Regions from separate parts of the Homo sapiens genome. Here region 1 is linked to region 2. The links come from fine-mapping of genetic effects on gene expression. Tissue or cell type: whole blood. Region 2 holds a variant in brackets; the other region holds the start of a gene. All regions are shown on one strand. Distances are from middle to middle.

Region 1 (6,864 bases), 27 kb after region 2:
GAGCTGCAGGAACCACCCTTAACGTGCAATGGGCAATAGGATTGGATCCATTAGCTTCGTGAATTTAGTCCTGTTCAATCTTCCTCAGGAGGAGCTAGAAGAACAAGGGCTGCAGACTTACCCGACTGCAACTTAAAAACATTTTTTTTGGAAATCCTTTAAGAGACTGACCACAAGTTTATCAGGGAAGCCTTACCAGATGGCTGCTTGTAAAGTAAATGGAATTTAGTCTTTTTAGTTCATGGAGGATTGGTGAAAAGTTTGATGGATTTTTACAAATGTTCTTTTAATAACAAAAGAGTCAATTCCTGAATTACCAATTACATGTAATTCAAATTCCACCAAAAGCCTTTTTACATATTCTGGAAGAATCAGTTCGAAGACATAAAAGCCTTTACTTTTTTCTTTTATTATATTTTCTCAAATAAACTTCCCCAAAGGAAGATATTTTAAGAGCATTTTCAAACATCTTTGGCATCACATAAAAAAGAAATCTCGTGTAAAAAACGAAATGTCATCTGAGCTTTTATAATACAAAGGCGCAATCCAATATGAACATATAAAATATATACAAATATAGTGCATGGTCAGTCACTTAATACAGCTCTCTCTACAAAAAGTAACTTCTTAGAAATTAAAAAAACACAAAGTAACCACTTAATCAAAAAAGTCCTCTTCTCTCCCAGTATTCAAGTTCCTGTTTAGAGTCCGGAGGGAAGAGAGGTGGGTTGGGGAGTTTAGGAGGAGGGGTGGCCTGAGCCCCCTCAGTTCCGCCACGGCCTCCACATGGAGTCCGCCGTAAGCGAGGGGCCGCTGGAAGGTGACACTGCGTTGGGGCCCACGGAGGTGCCGCTGTTGCTGGTGTAGACGGGGATGACAGGGCCGCTGTGCGCGAAGGCCCCGTTGGGAATGAGGAAAGCAAACTGGCCATCGGGAGCCGGTACCACCTGGAAGCCTCCAAACACCTTAGCCGCCTCTCCAGCCTGGCTGCCCAGCTTGCAGGGGGCGCCGCCGGGAGGGGGCGCCGCGCCCCCGGGGATGGGCACGAGTGGCGGCGGCGGCGCGAACGGCGCGTGCTGGGGGCCGCCGGGTCCCGGTGGGGGCGGTGGCGGCGCCTGCAAGGCGGGGTGCGGCTGCCCGGGGTAGGTCATGGCATTGATCTGGGTCATGCAGTTGGCCAGGTGGCCGAGCAGCCGAGTGCGCACCTCGGTATTAACGCCCTCGCACGTGGACAGGAAGCGGGTCACCTCGTTCATGCACTCGCTGAAGCCGGCTCGGTACTTCCCCAGCACACTTGGGTCTGTGCTCAGCGCAGCTGCGGGCCAGAAAGAGACAGACGGGTCACCGAACGGCCCTGGCCCCGTGGCCACTGCCTCCGCCCTGGGAGGTCCCTGTGGCGCGCCTCCCTGACCATGCGCCCGTGAAACTGCCTCCGGCAGGGAGGGTGAGATGGGTTTAGAAAAAACCAGCCACCTCTCCACACTAGCGTTGCTGCCAAAAGCCGAGCCACTCCTTCCCGATTCCCTGTAGCTGCATTTAAACCTATCTCAGCCCCAGATCTGTCACCCCCACCCCCGCGCGCGATGTGACCTTGGACAATGCCTCCCAATCCATCATCCAAGCCTCATTTCCCCTTCTGCAACGGGAAGGAGTGCTAAACCAGTGACCCCCAGGCTCCACGCAGTTCCAAACCGCCACAGTCCTAAGTCCTTTCGCCCCTACCCGGCGCCCGCCACCCTCGCGGCTGCAACCTCTTTCCCTCCCTTTCCGGAACAGTAACAACTTGGAGTTGTGGCTATAAATAAGCCCCAGACCGTGGGAACGCAAGAGTGAGCCAAGGCAGTAAAATGTAGCTGAATGCCTCTCACAACCACGGGCGGAAGTCTGGAAGAAATCACCGCGAGGCGAGCGGGACGCCCGCACAGGGGGACGCGGCGAGCCGCCCTCACCCGTCATCTGCGCCCGCTGCAGGTTCCGGAGGTGCTTCACTGTCATTTCCAGAATGTCCGCCTTCTCCAGCTTGGAATGCCGCGAGCTCTGCATAGAGTAGGCAAGAAAGGAAAGTGAGCCCCGTGTCAGCTGCTTCAGAGTGCTGGGGGTCCCTCCTCCCGGCCACGGAGCGCAAGCATTATCTCTGGACCCCAGCGAATAAGGCCGGGCCCTCCCGCCTGGGAGAACGCAGTACCAGCGAGTGCCAGACCCCGCAGGGCGGGGGGTTTCACTCTTAGTAGCTGAGAAAGTGTTTGTTTTTTAATTAAAAGAGCGAGCAGCATTTCCCCACTTACATCTTTCTTCAGAGCATCCAAAATCAGTGTTTTCAGCTGGCTCAGACTTTCATTTATTCTTGCTCTTCGTCTTTTCTCCATAATAGGCTTTGATGACTGCAAATAAAAAAAAGAGTTCTGTGTTCCCATGGAATCTGCCATCCCGGGGTTTCAAGACAGAAAGAAGCCCCCCAACCCCTACTTAATTTTGAGGGGCTGCAAAGAGATACAGGTACCGCCCTTACCTTTCTGTGCTCAGATGCTGTCTTTGGTTTATCCGGTGTCGTGTTGACACTGGCTGGGGTAGCAGCCACCGGGGACGAGGAATTTTTCTCCATTATATCAGCTGGCATTTTCCTTTTTTTTTTTTTTTTATCTCTAGAGAATTTTATTTTTGGAGTTCTTCACGAAAAAGAATTTTTTGTTTGTGTCTCTTTTACTTGAGACTTTCACAAAACTACTGAGCAAGTGCTGAGGGTTTATTATATTTTGTGGCTACTTGGTGATCAGTAGCGCTGTTCCAGGACCAAGGAGAGAGGTAGACGGGGGATTCCGCTGTTATCAGCACCAGCTCCGGATCCTGTGTGATCCCTAGGCCCTGGCGGCCTCTATATATATCTGGGACTGCACGCGAACGGCTCGTGTGAAACTTCCCAAACTTTCTTTCCCACAGTAACTTTCAGCCAATGGGAGGAGGAGACACGCGGCACCGCTCGTGGACCGCGCCCCCCCATTGGCCGCCAGGCACAAGGTCTGGCGGCCAATGGCGCGCGCCTGAGCCCAGGGCACCGGAGGCTACAACGTCAATCAAAAGGATTTTAACCCTTTGCTACTCTCCCTCTGGGCTTTGGTTTAGAGATTTTTTTTTTCTTTCCGCTTTGGTCTTGATCTTGTCTATTTCTTTTGGAGCCAGGGTCTTTGCTCTTTATGCCCTCTCTCATATGTAACAGAGCTGCTTTGACTGTAGTAAGTTCATTTGAAACATATTTTTTTTAAAGGTATAAACAATAAAGAAAAAAACAGCAGTGGTTAAAAGGGGGCGGGGGGAGGGGGGGACGGGTGTAAGAATGTGAGTTACCGACACATCTAAAGTTCCCGCTCAGACTTTACATTCAGGAGGGTGAAAGTAGATGGTAAAGGAAAAGGGCCAAAAAAATTTTCCTGTTTCCATGCAGAAAAAGGAAAAATTGCCTTCTACCTCACAAATGCAGGTTTTTCGGAGCAAGGTAGTTCTTGAATCCCACCCCCACCCCGTCTTTCAGAAATTCCTCGTTTGGATTTGGGGCCTTAGACCCCGGGCTTCCCCAGGAAACAATCAGAATAATTTCCAACTGGGTGGAAGGAAACGGTATTTCAAATGAAAAAATGAACAAGGGGGGCTCCGAGGGCAATGACTCAGGGACTCGCGCCCTCCTTCACCACCCTTTCCCTTTTCATCCGTAGGCTTTAGGTTCTGCGGCGCGTTGAGGTGGCGGGCAAGGAAGCAGCCTCTCCCTCCTCGCCCCGCGGGCGGCCTCGGCCCCCGGCGCCCGCGGGCCCTTTAAGAGCTACACCAGCCGAGCTGCAGTTTGACATCAGCCGGCCGGCGTGGGCGCGCCTGGAGCCGGAGCACGTGCCAGGATGTTTTATTGCCGCCGCGGCTGCGGCCGGGCCGGGAGGATGTGTGTGTGCGTGCGTGTGTGAGTGAGTGTGTGTGCGCGCGCCCCGGGGGCAGGGAGGCGGGGGGCGGCGACGGGCGGCGGAGAGCGGGGGCCGGTTCCTGGTCCCCGGGAGAAGCCAAGAAGGTAAATAGCAGCTGCTGTGCTCGAGCCTGGGAAAACCCCGCCCCCTGCGCCTGGCCCGGGCTCATTGGCGCGCGCTGCGTGTGGGGGGTGTGTGTGTGTGTGTGTCCGGGGCCCCCTCCTCCGGCCCCGCCGGGCCAGGAATCCGAGGGGGCGGCGGGCTGGGAGCCGAGCCCCGGCGCTTACCCTCTCTCCCCACCCCCGCCTCCCCAGGCCAAGGTCAGCTCTTCCCGGCGGGGAGCGCACACCCGGGGTGGAGAGTGGGGAATTCTTCCAACCCCCGCCTCCCCACCCTCACTTTCGGGCTTGGGGTTTTCACTCGGCCGAAAGCCGCATTCGCAACAGCCCGGGGGCGAGGTGGGGGCCTCCAAGTTTGCTCCTCGCCCCCGCCCTCTCCCCGCGGGGCCCTGGGCGCCCGCCGCGGTCACGGGATGCCTGACCGCACTTAGGAAGCGGCCGGGTCAGCCTCCTGCCTCCGCTCGGCGACTGCGGTTAAAGCGGCTTCGCGCCGCCCGCCCCTTCCCCGGGTCCCGGGCGGCCGGGCCGCTCCCCCTCACTACGCCCGGGAGGCCGCCGGCGGGCGCCCGGGAGGAGGCGGGCGGCGCGGGCGGCTGCGTGCTGCCTGCTGGCCGGGCCGCGCGCCGGGAGGAGTCGCCGCCGCCGCCGCCGGGTGCCACGTGGCGGGCGCCGGGCCGGGAGCGCCAGGGCTCTGGCGGCGGCCTCCCTGGGGGATTTGCCGAGCCGGGCGGGCGGCGCGCACTGCCTGGGCCGGCCGGCCGCCTCCTCCGCCTCCCTCCCGCCTGCCCGGGTCGCCGGCCCCCGTGCCCCCACCCCCCCTCCGCCCTTCCCGCCGCCTGGGAGCTCGGCTCGCGGCTCCGGGCAGCCCGGGAGCCCAGCGTCTTGTTTGATGTGGCCTCCCGCCCCCTCAGCCCTTCCCGCGTCCCGGAGGCCTGGCGCACGGTTCTCAGACACTTCATTCCTTCCGGCCTCCCAGCTCCCCACTGAGATAACGTTGTCAATGATTTCGCCAGATCTCGTCCCGGATGAGATTCAGTGGTTCCTGACTCTGGGTGACCTTGGGCAAGCCCCCCTCTCTCTTTCATTGTGGAACACACGCGCAGTGTCAGACACTGTGTTAAACCCTGGGATTTCCACGGTGAGAGATACAGTGGCGGCCTGCTAGAAGTTGACAGTAAACTGCGGGGGCAGACAGACGCTGATTTTCTGATTGATGACTGGACATTCCTTTATTTTTCCTTTCTTTTCTGAGTTAGGTGGTGGCTTGAGAGATCAGGAGGACAGAAACAAAATATGAAACCATACTTGTATGGATAACAGTATTGCTGGTCTACCTGGGTTTACAGCAGTGAGTAAGACCGTTATTGCTCTCTGGAAGCTAACAGTCTAGAGATACATATAAACGTGTACAGCTGACATCTACGGATGGCCCAGTAAATTCCTCTGGGAAGTCGTAGGTTCAAGAGAGACGTATGTCTGGATAGAGGTAAAATGCTATGGAGTTTCAGGAGAATTAAGTTACTTTTAAGTTGGGGTACCTTGGAAAACTTCCTGGAGGGATTGGCCTGTGTACCTTGAAAAATAGGTAGGATTGGGGCATTGGGAATGTGCTTAGTCGTGGGCTGGAGAGGATGCAGGTACCCATGGTATTAAAGGCCAAGATCCTGGAACTTGAAGACTTTATTCAGGGAACATGGTCTGGAGCCTAGGGAATGTGAGGGACTGGAAGAGGCAGCTTGAGGCCATGTCACAAGCTCCTTAAACATCTTGCTGAAGGACTTTGGACCTTATCTTTAGACAGTGGAGAGCCATGAAACATTCTTGAGCAAAGAAGAGGCATCAGGGTTTCCCTTTAGAAAGATGGCTCTGGCAAAAGTGGGAGAGTGGATTGCAGGGCTTGGAGGCAGAAAGGGCAGTTAGGCAGTTCAAGCCAGTGAAGAAGGTTCCTAGGAGGCAGGTGCAGACTGACTCCCAGAGGCATCTGTCTACATCCAGCTCCTCTGGACATTGACCGCACGCTCTTGGGAACTGAGTTCAACTCAAACCTGCCTACCCTTTAATGCAGTGTTCCCAACCCCCAACCAGGAACTCAGGAACTCAGATTTAATTCCTGAGTCTAACTAAGGAATCATGGCTCTGACCGTATTAACCTAAGCCTCATTTCCACCTTCCAGGATAGTCCTCCAGTCTGCAACCAAACATTTCCCTCATCGAAGGCTTTGGTTTACTCACTGTTGCCCCTAAGGCTACTCTGAGATTTTTTTTAAAAAATGTTTTCTTACACTGCAGAGTGAGCTGTGCCCTGTCATGTTCTGAAGAAATGATGAACAATGCCTCCTTTGTTGACCTGCAACCTGGGCCAAAGGGGAAGGAATTTTCTTTCTTATTTTAAACAGATGGAAAAGTGGTGATGACAGAAAATTGTCTGTTGCTTTTGGAAAACGTAGGGTTTTCCTGTGTGGTGAAAATCCTCTTGGTGAAAGGTGATGAGCCTATGAAGTTACCCTCCTTTCTGCCATGGCCCCAATAAGCTTTGCAAGCTTCTTAAAATGCTTCTACTGAGCGTCTGACTTTTTAAAAACTTCCCAAATACACTGACCCAGATTCTTCTGAGGAACTAAACCCTTCCCGGGGAAGCATGTTAACCCTTTCCAGGTTCCCCCCAAATCTTTCAGAACCAGTGCCTGCTCTGCTAGGCTCTGCCAGGCTCTGCCATGACATTGACTGCTGTCTGCTGGTCGGCCCTCATTAACTACTGGGTTATGCCACTCCCTGCCCATTCTAAGAGACTTTTTCATCTG
Region 2 (6,864 bases):
TCCTTCACAGGTCAAAGGAAATGCACTGGTCTATTGAAAGATATTGATTTCCTCCCACTGTGAGATTCCTAAGGAACCTCATTGAAAGGAGGGATAAAGATCCTGGTGGGTTTCAGGGACAGCTCTCTTACTTCCTCTTCTCCTACCCTGGCTTCTTCCCATTGGAATGCAGCTAGTTTCTTGACTTTTGGTGAATACTAGGAGTTTCCCAGGAGACATTGTCAGAGACTAGATGGAGGTTACTCCAAGGTACAGTGGATTAAATGCTGCACTGGATGGAGGTGGGACCAGAAGACCCCTAGGACTCCTCTAGCTCTAAGGTCCTGTGGACCAGTCTTTCAATTCTACCCCAAAGGGCCACTTACAGTTCAGAAGCAACTGATACAAGCCTCAGGAAATTAGACTTAGATAGATATTGACCCCCTCCTCTCACCCAGATGATCAAATGGCAGGTGTGGACACTTGTAAGGACAGCAGTGCCTTGTAAGTTAGTCGGGCCGGATGTTGAGTGACGATTGTGGGCAATGCTGGGCTAGATGATGTTGAAACAAAACAAACATGCAGACAAAAACCCTTCTCTTTCTCTTTGAGTAGCGTCTCTTTAGCGAGACCATGACTCTGAGCTCCTAGATGACATACTACATCTATTTTTTAATATTAAATTTTATTGAGGTGTGATTGGCATGAAATAAACTGCACATAAAGTATGCAAGTGATAAGTTTGGCCTATGTGTACAACTGTAAAACCCTCACCACAATCAAAACAGTGGATATATCCCTTCCCTCAAAAGTTTCCTCACATCCCTTTAGGATCCTTTCTGCCTCTCTGGCACCCTATCTTCCCTCCCCCAGTCTCTAGGCAACAGCTAATTTGCCTTATGTCATTGTAGATTAGTTTGCATTTTGGAGAATTGTAAAAGAACGGAGTCATAGAGGACATATTCTTCTTTTTCTGGCCTTTTTTACTGAGCATAATTATTTTGAGATCCATCCATGTTGTTGCATTTATCTGTAGTTTATTTCATTGTATTCCTACATAGTAATCCATCGGATGGATAATATCACACTTTGTTTATCCATTCACTTATTGATAGACATTTGCATTGTTCCAGTTTTTGACTGTTACAAATAAAGCTGCCTTGAATATTTTATGTACAAGTCTTTTGTATCGACATATGCTTTCAGTTCTCTTGGGTAAATACCTATGAATGAAACGGCTGGATCACATGTTAGGCATATGTTTAACTTCTTCAGAAATCATTTCTTGAAATAGTTTGTACCATTTTATATTCCAACCGGCGGTATGTGAGAATTCTAGTTACTTCACATCTTTGCCAATGCTTGGCATGGTTAGTCTTTTCAGTTTTAAACAGTCTGGTGTGTGTGTGTGGTGGGTTCGTATCTCATTATGATTTCAATTGCATTTTCCAAATGACCAATGGTATACATCTTTTCATGTGCTTATTTGCCATCATATTATTTTGGGATGAAGGGTCTGTTGAAATCTTTTGTCCATTTTTTAATTGGTTTGCTTTTTTTATTATTGAGTTTGCAAGTTCTTCATATAATCCGGATACAATTCCCTTATCAGATTTGTGATTTGCTAATATTTTCTCCATTTATTTTCTTTTTCTCCAAAGTTTTTTATTCTCAAGGCAGTGTCTTTTGAAGAGAAGGTCTTAATTTTTTTTAAGGGATGGGGTTTGCTATGTTGCCCAGGCTGGAGTGCAGTGGCTATTCACAGGAACAATCTCGCTACTGATCAGCATGAACGTTTTGATCTCTCCATTTCCAATCTGGGCAGATTCACCTCTCCTAGGGCGACCTGGTGGTCCCCCTCTCCCAGAAGTTCACTATATTGATGCTGAACTTAATGCAGACGCCCTTTACAAGGCTGTATTTTAAACCACACCAGTGTTCAGTTCCTTAGCAAGACGATTCAGAGACAAATACCAGCACTATTAATTATACCTTTATTTAGAAGTGCAGTATCTTGAAAGACAAGTGTTTGAGTAACTTGGAAGAAAAGAAGACTGAAAGGAGGAAAGCCACATTTTATGGAAGAGATGAAATTTATTGGTACAATTTAGATAAGTCAGGAGTAGATAGAACCTGAGTAAGCACCTAGAGAGAATATGTAAAGTTTGTTTAGCAAGAATTCCAATTAAGTTGTAAGAAAGGGTGCATAAGGAATAAAATGGAGATAAAGCAAAAGATCTTGAAATAGAGGTTGAAGAGTTTGTGCTTAATTCTCAAGGCACTAGACAGCCATGAGGTTTTTACTTAAGAGGGAGGGGGTTGCTGCAGGAGTTGAAATGATGGCACTAACTAAACTACTGAATGCTCACATGCGTTTACCGACCCAATCTCCTACCTGCTTGCTCTTGGAGTCAGGAGGAGGAAAGGGAGGAGGGAGGAAGAGATGAAGGGAGGGCTAGGACTTGTGGGAGAGGCTGACTGGCAGCAGGGCTTTAATTTCAATGGAATGTTTTCACGGGCATCGCCTTTCCCTTCCTGGTTGGGTGGATGAGCAGAGGTTCCTTGGGAATGTTTTTCTTGGGCACTTTTATAGGGTTTCAGCTAAAAACACAGGATATTGGTATGCATCTTCACGGTTTAGGTTAAATTGCAGTTTGCCCCCAAAACTTCCTTGAGGTTACATTTTATTCAACCCTTTTCGCCGTTCAAATGCCTACCAAACAGAGATTTATAGAAGAGGCTGAAGCTGGGAAGAGCCTCAAGAGACCATCCAAACCATCCTGTCCTCTTACACTCACTGTTCTATGAAGAAGTTAGGGTGAGAGGGGGTAGCTCAATTCCAATAATGTGAATCTGATGACACCACTTACCTCTATACAATCCTTTCATGGAAACCCCAAATCTTTTCATTTTATTTTATTTTTTTGAGATAGGGTCTTTCTCTGTTGCCCAGGCTAGAATGCAGTGGCATGATCATGGCTCACTGCGGCCTTAACCTCCTGGGGTCAAGCAATTCTCCTGCCTCAGCTTCTCCAGTAGCTGGGACTATAGGCGCACACCACTACACTCGGCTAATCTTTGTATTTTTTTGTGGAGATGGGGTTTTACCATGTTGCCCAGGCTGTTCTTGAACACCTGGGCTCAAGTGATCCTCCTGCCTCAGCCTCCGAAAGTGCTGGGATTACAGGCATGAGCCAACTGTGCCCGGCCTCAACCCAATATCTTTACCTAGAGTGATCATATATCCTGGTTTGCCCAGAATAGTCCTGGTTCTTGTTTTTTTCCCCAGGGTTTAATTATTGGTAATAACCCCTTTCACTCCCTAAAGTGAACCAGTTACATAATAAATTTTATGGTCACCTAAGTAATGCTTTCCAACTGATGCACCCCAGTGTGAAGACTGACGTCAGAAGTGGGTTGTCTCTGAGTTGCTGGGAGAGGGCTGTAAGCTCTTCTATGCATATATAGTTTCTCAATCAGCAGAGAGAAAAGTAAAACTATGACAGGTTGAGTATCCTGAATCCAAAAATTTCAAATCTGAAATGCTCCAAAATCTAAAACATTCTGAGCACCAACATAACTCTCAAAGGAAATATCATTGGAACATTTTGGATTTCTGATTTTTGAATTAGGAATAATCAACTGTAAGCATAATGCAGATATTCCAAATTCTGAAAAAATGTGAAATCCACAACACTTCTGGTCCCAAGCATTTAGGATAAAAGATACTCAAGCTGCACATTTTAAGAGTCTAAGAGGAATGCTGGAGGGAAGGATAGCGATTGTTGAAAGTAGGCACGCACCGTCTGCAGACTCAGCACTCCTCACCCAGCCTGCGGCCCCACAACTCACCGC[CT/T]AGCCCTTCCCACTATTTTTAGAGGCAAAGTCTTGCTCTGTCACCCAGGCTGGCGTGCAGGGGGACGATCCTAGCTCACTGCAGCCTTGAACTCCTGGGCTCAAATGATCTTCCCGCCTCAGCCTCCTGGATAGCTGGGACTAGTGGGAAGCATGTGCCACTATGCCTGGCTATTTTTATTTGATTATAGAGATGGGGTCTCACTATGCTGCCTCCTTCTTTACGGTCCAGCCACCAGAAGCAGTTCCTGGTCTCCTGACTCTACTGTGTCACTTCAGGGCTTTGGAACATGCTTTCCCTCTGCTGGAAGACATCTGCAGCCACCTCATCTCCCTCTTCCTTCAGTGCTCTGAGGTATTTCCCCTTGACATCCTCCCCAGGTGTCCCCCAAACCCCCAAACCATGGGACAGAGCCGGGATCTCCCCACTCTGAGCTGCTCTGACCTCCCCTTTCTTTTCTGTCCTGGTGCCCATTAATACTCTACATTGGCTGTGTGAGTGTACGTGCAAGTCTCCCTCCTGGACTGTGAGCAACTAGCGGGCAGGGCTGTCCCCCAACCCCGAGCACAGTGACTGGCATAAGGAGAGGATGCCCACACATACTGTCAAGTACACTCATTCGGTGGATATTTATTGAGCATTAGCTTTGCTCCAAGCACCACACAGCAGGGGACACTGCAGTGCACCAATGTCCCTATACCTGGAGAGCTGCAGCTGAACCCATGAATGGGGCAGTGTGAGTGTGTGGACAGGTCAATACATCATGAATGTGTGTCCATATGTATCCGTGTCTGTTCAAGGAGTTTGCTAGAACCTGCGTTCCTCTCAGGAAGACAGAATGCTTCAAAACAAATCAGTTTTTTTCTTTGTAGTTTCTTTGTGAATTAAGCAGCATAAACCTCTGATCTATGTAAAAACAGGGAAAGGGAAGTCTAGGGAGGCTAAAATAACTTTATCAACGTCGCTGAGTTGAGTGGCTAGTCCCCTGAGGGAGAAGCCTTGTGCCTTGGATCCCAGCTCAGCCGGGGGCAGCCGTGGCCCCGGCACAGCCTGATCTTACCGTGCGTGCCTGGGCGCAGCTCCTTCACCTGGGGGCTTGGGGTTCCTCCCTACTGCTTCTCACCACTGAATGTTTGTGAAAGGCAGGGCTGTGTTTGCGCCTGTAGCCAGGCAGGGGCTCTTTCCCAGAAGCTGGTCCAAGGCCACAGAGGCTGAGCAGAAACCCATGTGCTGTTTGTTGTGAGGCAGGCTCTGTTCTCAGGGATTTATTTGTGAAATTCCTGGAGTGGGGAGGAAGACCTACAGCTTGGCAGAAGTAAATGCCAGGTCCTGAGAAGCTTGGCAAATGGAGAAGGAGAGAAAGGAGTATGGGGTGGGGGGTGGAGAGGGAGGTGGAGAGAGAGAGAGAGAGATACTCAGGCTGAGCCCTGGGATCAGGCTTTGAAGACAGAAAAGATTCTAACTTTTTGCCCTCAAAAGACTGTAAATCAGTCTCATTCTCTCCACACCCACTGCTACACACTCACCTTAATTCATCTCTGCCTTTAACCTTTGACCAATTCTCCTCACCCTAGCTCAGAGATAACTTTCTTCTTCTTTTGTTCAGAGGTTGTAACAGCTTTGGGACGCTCTGGGATCCCTGTTCCACTTTGCCTTTCCCTGCCTTCATCACCCCCTTAATTATGGACATGAACAGTCTTCAGGTCAAAGAAAAATGTGGGTAAGATGTGGCCTCCCCAAGGACTGAAGGCAAAGGCCAGCACCCCAGAGGGAGGCATCACTCTCCAGGACAGGCCGGGGATGGCGGGAGCGCCTCACTCCAGCAGAAGTGAGGGCCTGGCTTGCTCTGTCAGTGGCCCGGAGAGCTCGCCTTACCTCCCTGGAGCATGGGTTAGATTCCAGAACTGCCTCTCCCAGTTCATAGCAAGTACAGAGAGCCATAGTGAGGGGCAGGAGGTGCTTGGAGGTGCAGAGAACAGGTTACCTGTCGCTGTCAGGTAAACCTGAATCCTGAAGCCCAGATCACTCAGCTACTGTCTGAGTCTGCCAGGGGCCTCCCTCCAACACACCCCAAACCTTCTCCCCGTCCCAGTGCAGCTTTCTGCTGTGGTTTCAGTCCTCAGCGGGTCAGCCAGTGCCGCCTCCACTTGTCCTGATCACACTGGCCCTTCCACTCCAGAGGTCATTTGCCTCCTCAGAGGGCCCCATGCACCCAAATGTACTTGAGTATAAGGTGGCCAGAGTGGCTGAAGATGTTTTACCTGGACAGGGAAGGGAGGGCACTCCTGTGAGCCAGGCCAGGGGGAGATGTAAGGGGTGAGGAATCACAAATTTAATTTCAAAAGACTGAAGCTGAGACGTGACAGGGCACTCCTGCACAGAAACTCCCCTCCTTCCTCACTCTAGGAAATCTGGAGAAAATCCAGAAAGTGGGTGGCAGCTGCAGAGGGATCCACACATAGTGGAATAGGGCCTTCCTATCTCCAGAGCTGGAGAGCTGTCTCTTTTGTGTTTTGAGACAGGGCCTCGCTCTGTCACCCAGGCTAGAGTGCAGTGGCGCGATCTTGGCTCACTGCAGCCTGGGCTCAAGCAATCTGCCCACCTCAGCCTCCCGAGTAGCTGGGAATACAGGTGCGTGCCACCAGGCCCAGCTAATTGCTCATTTTTTTGTATTTTTGTAGAGATGGAGTTTCCCCATGTTGCCCAGGTTCGTCTAGAACTCCTGGACTCAAGTGATTTGCCTGCTTCGGCCTCCCAAAGTACTGGGATTACAGGTGTGAGCCACTGCACCCGGCCTGGAGAGCTGTCTTTAGGGTGGTAGCTGAATGTCATATTCCTGGACAGACCTGACCGCATGGAATGGCACAGTCTCTGGGACCCCTGCCTGCCTTTTCTTTCTCCCTCTCCACTTAGAAACTTCACCCCAGACTGGGTTCAGGAATAGGGCTTGGTACCCAATATAGGGCCTAGTATACAGTAGGTGCTAAAGGTGTTCACTGAATGAATGATTAAAACATGAACCAGTCAGG

Evidence for each region. PIP is the estimated chance that this variant, and not a neighbour inherited with it, causes the effect.
Region 1: HES1 starts here. The variant in region 2 is fine-mapped to the expression of HES1 in whole blood (INTERVAL, PIP above 0.99).

What each region holds. Positions count from the first base shown.
Region 1 is chr3:194,132,134-194,138,997 of GRCh38, reverse strand. It overlaps HES1 (hes family bHLH transcription factor 1), which reads right to left and starts at 2,850. Exons shown (of 4, transcript NM_005524.4): 1 at 2,510-2,850; 2 at 2,286-2,381; 3 at 1,950-2,037; 4 at 266-1,315. The coding sequence starts at 2,617. The coding sequence ends at 765. RefSeq lists enhancers at 737-926, 2,724-2,883, 1,693-2,892 and silencers at 957-1,156, 3,883-4,422, 4,493-4,772.
Region 2 is chr3:194,159,473-194,166,336 of GRCh38, reverse strand. It overlaps LOC107986172 (a long non-coding RNA gene), which reads left to right and starts at 4,052. Exons shown (of 3, transcript XR_001741081.2): 1 at 4,052-4,189; 2 at 5,442-5,555; 3 at 6,517-6,542. RefSeq lists an enhancer at 4,422-5,353. The variant CT/T (reference allele first, on the strand shown) is at 3,835.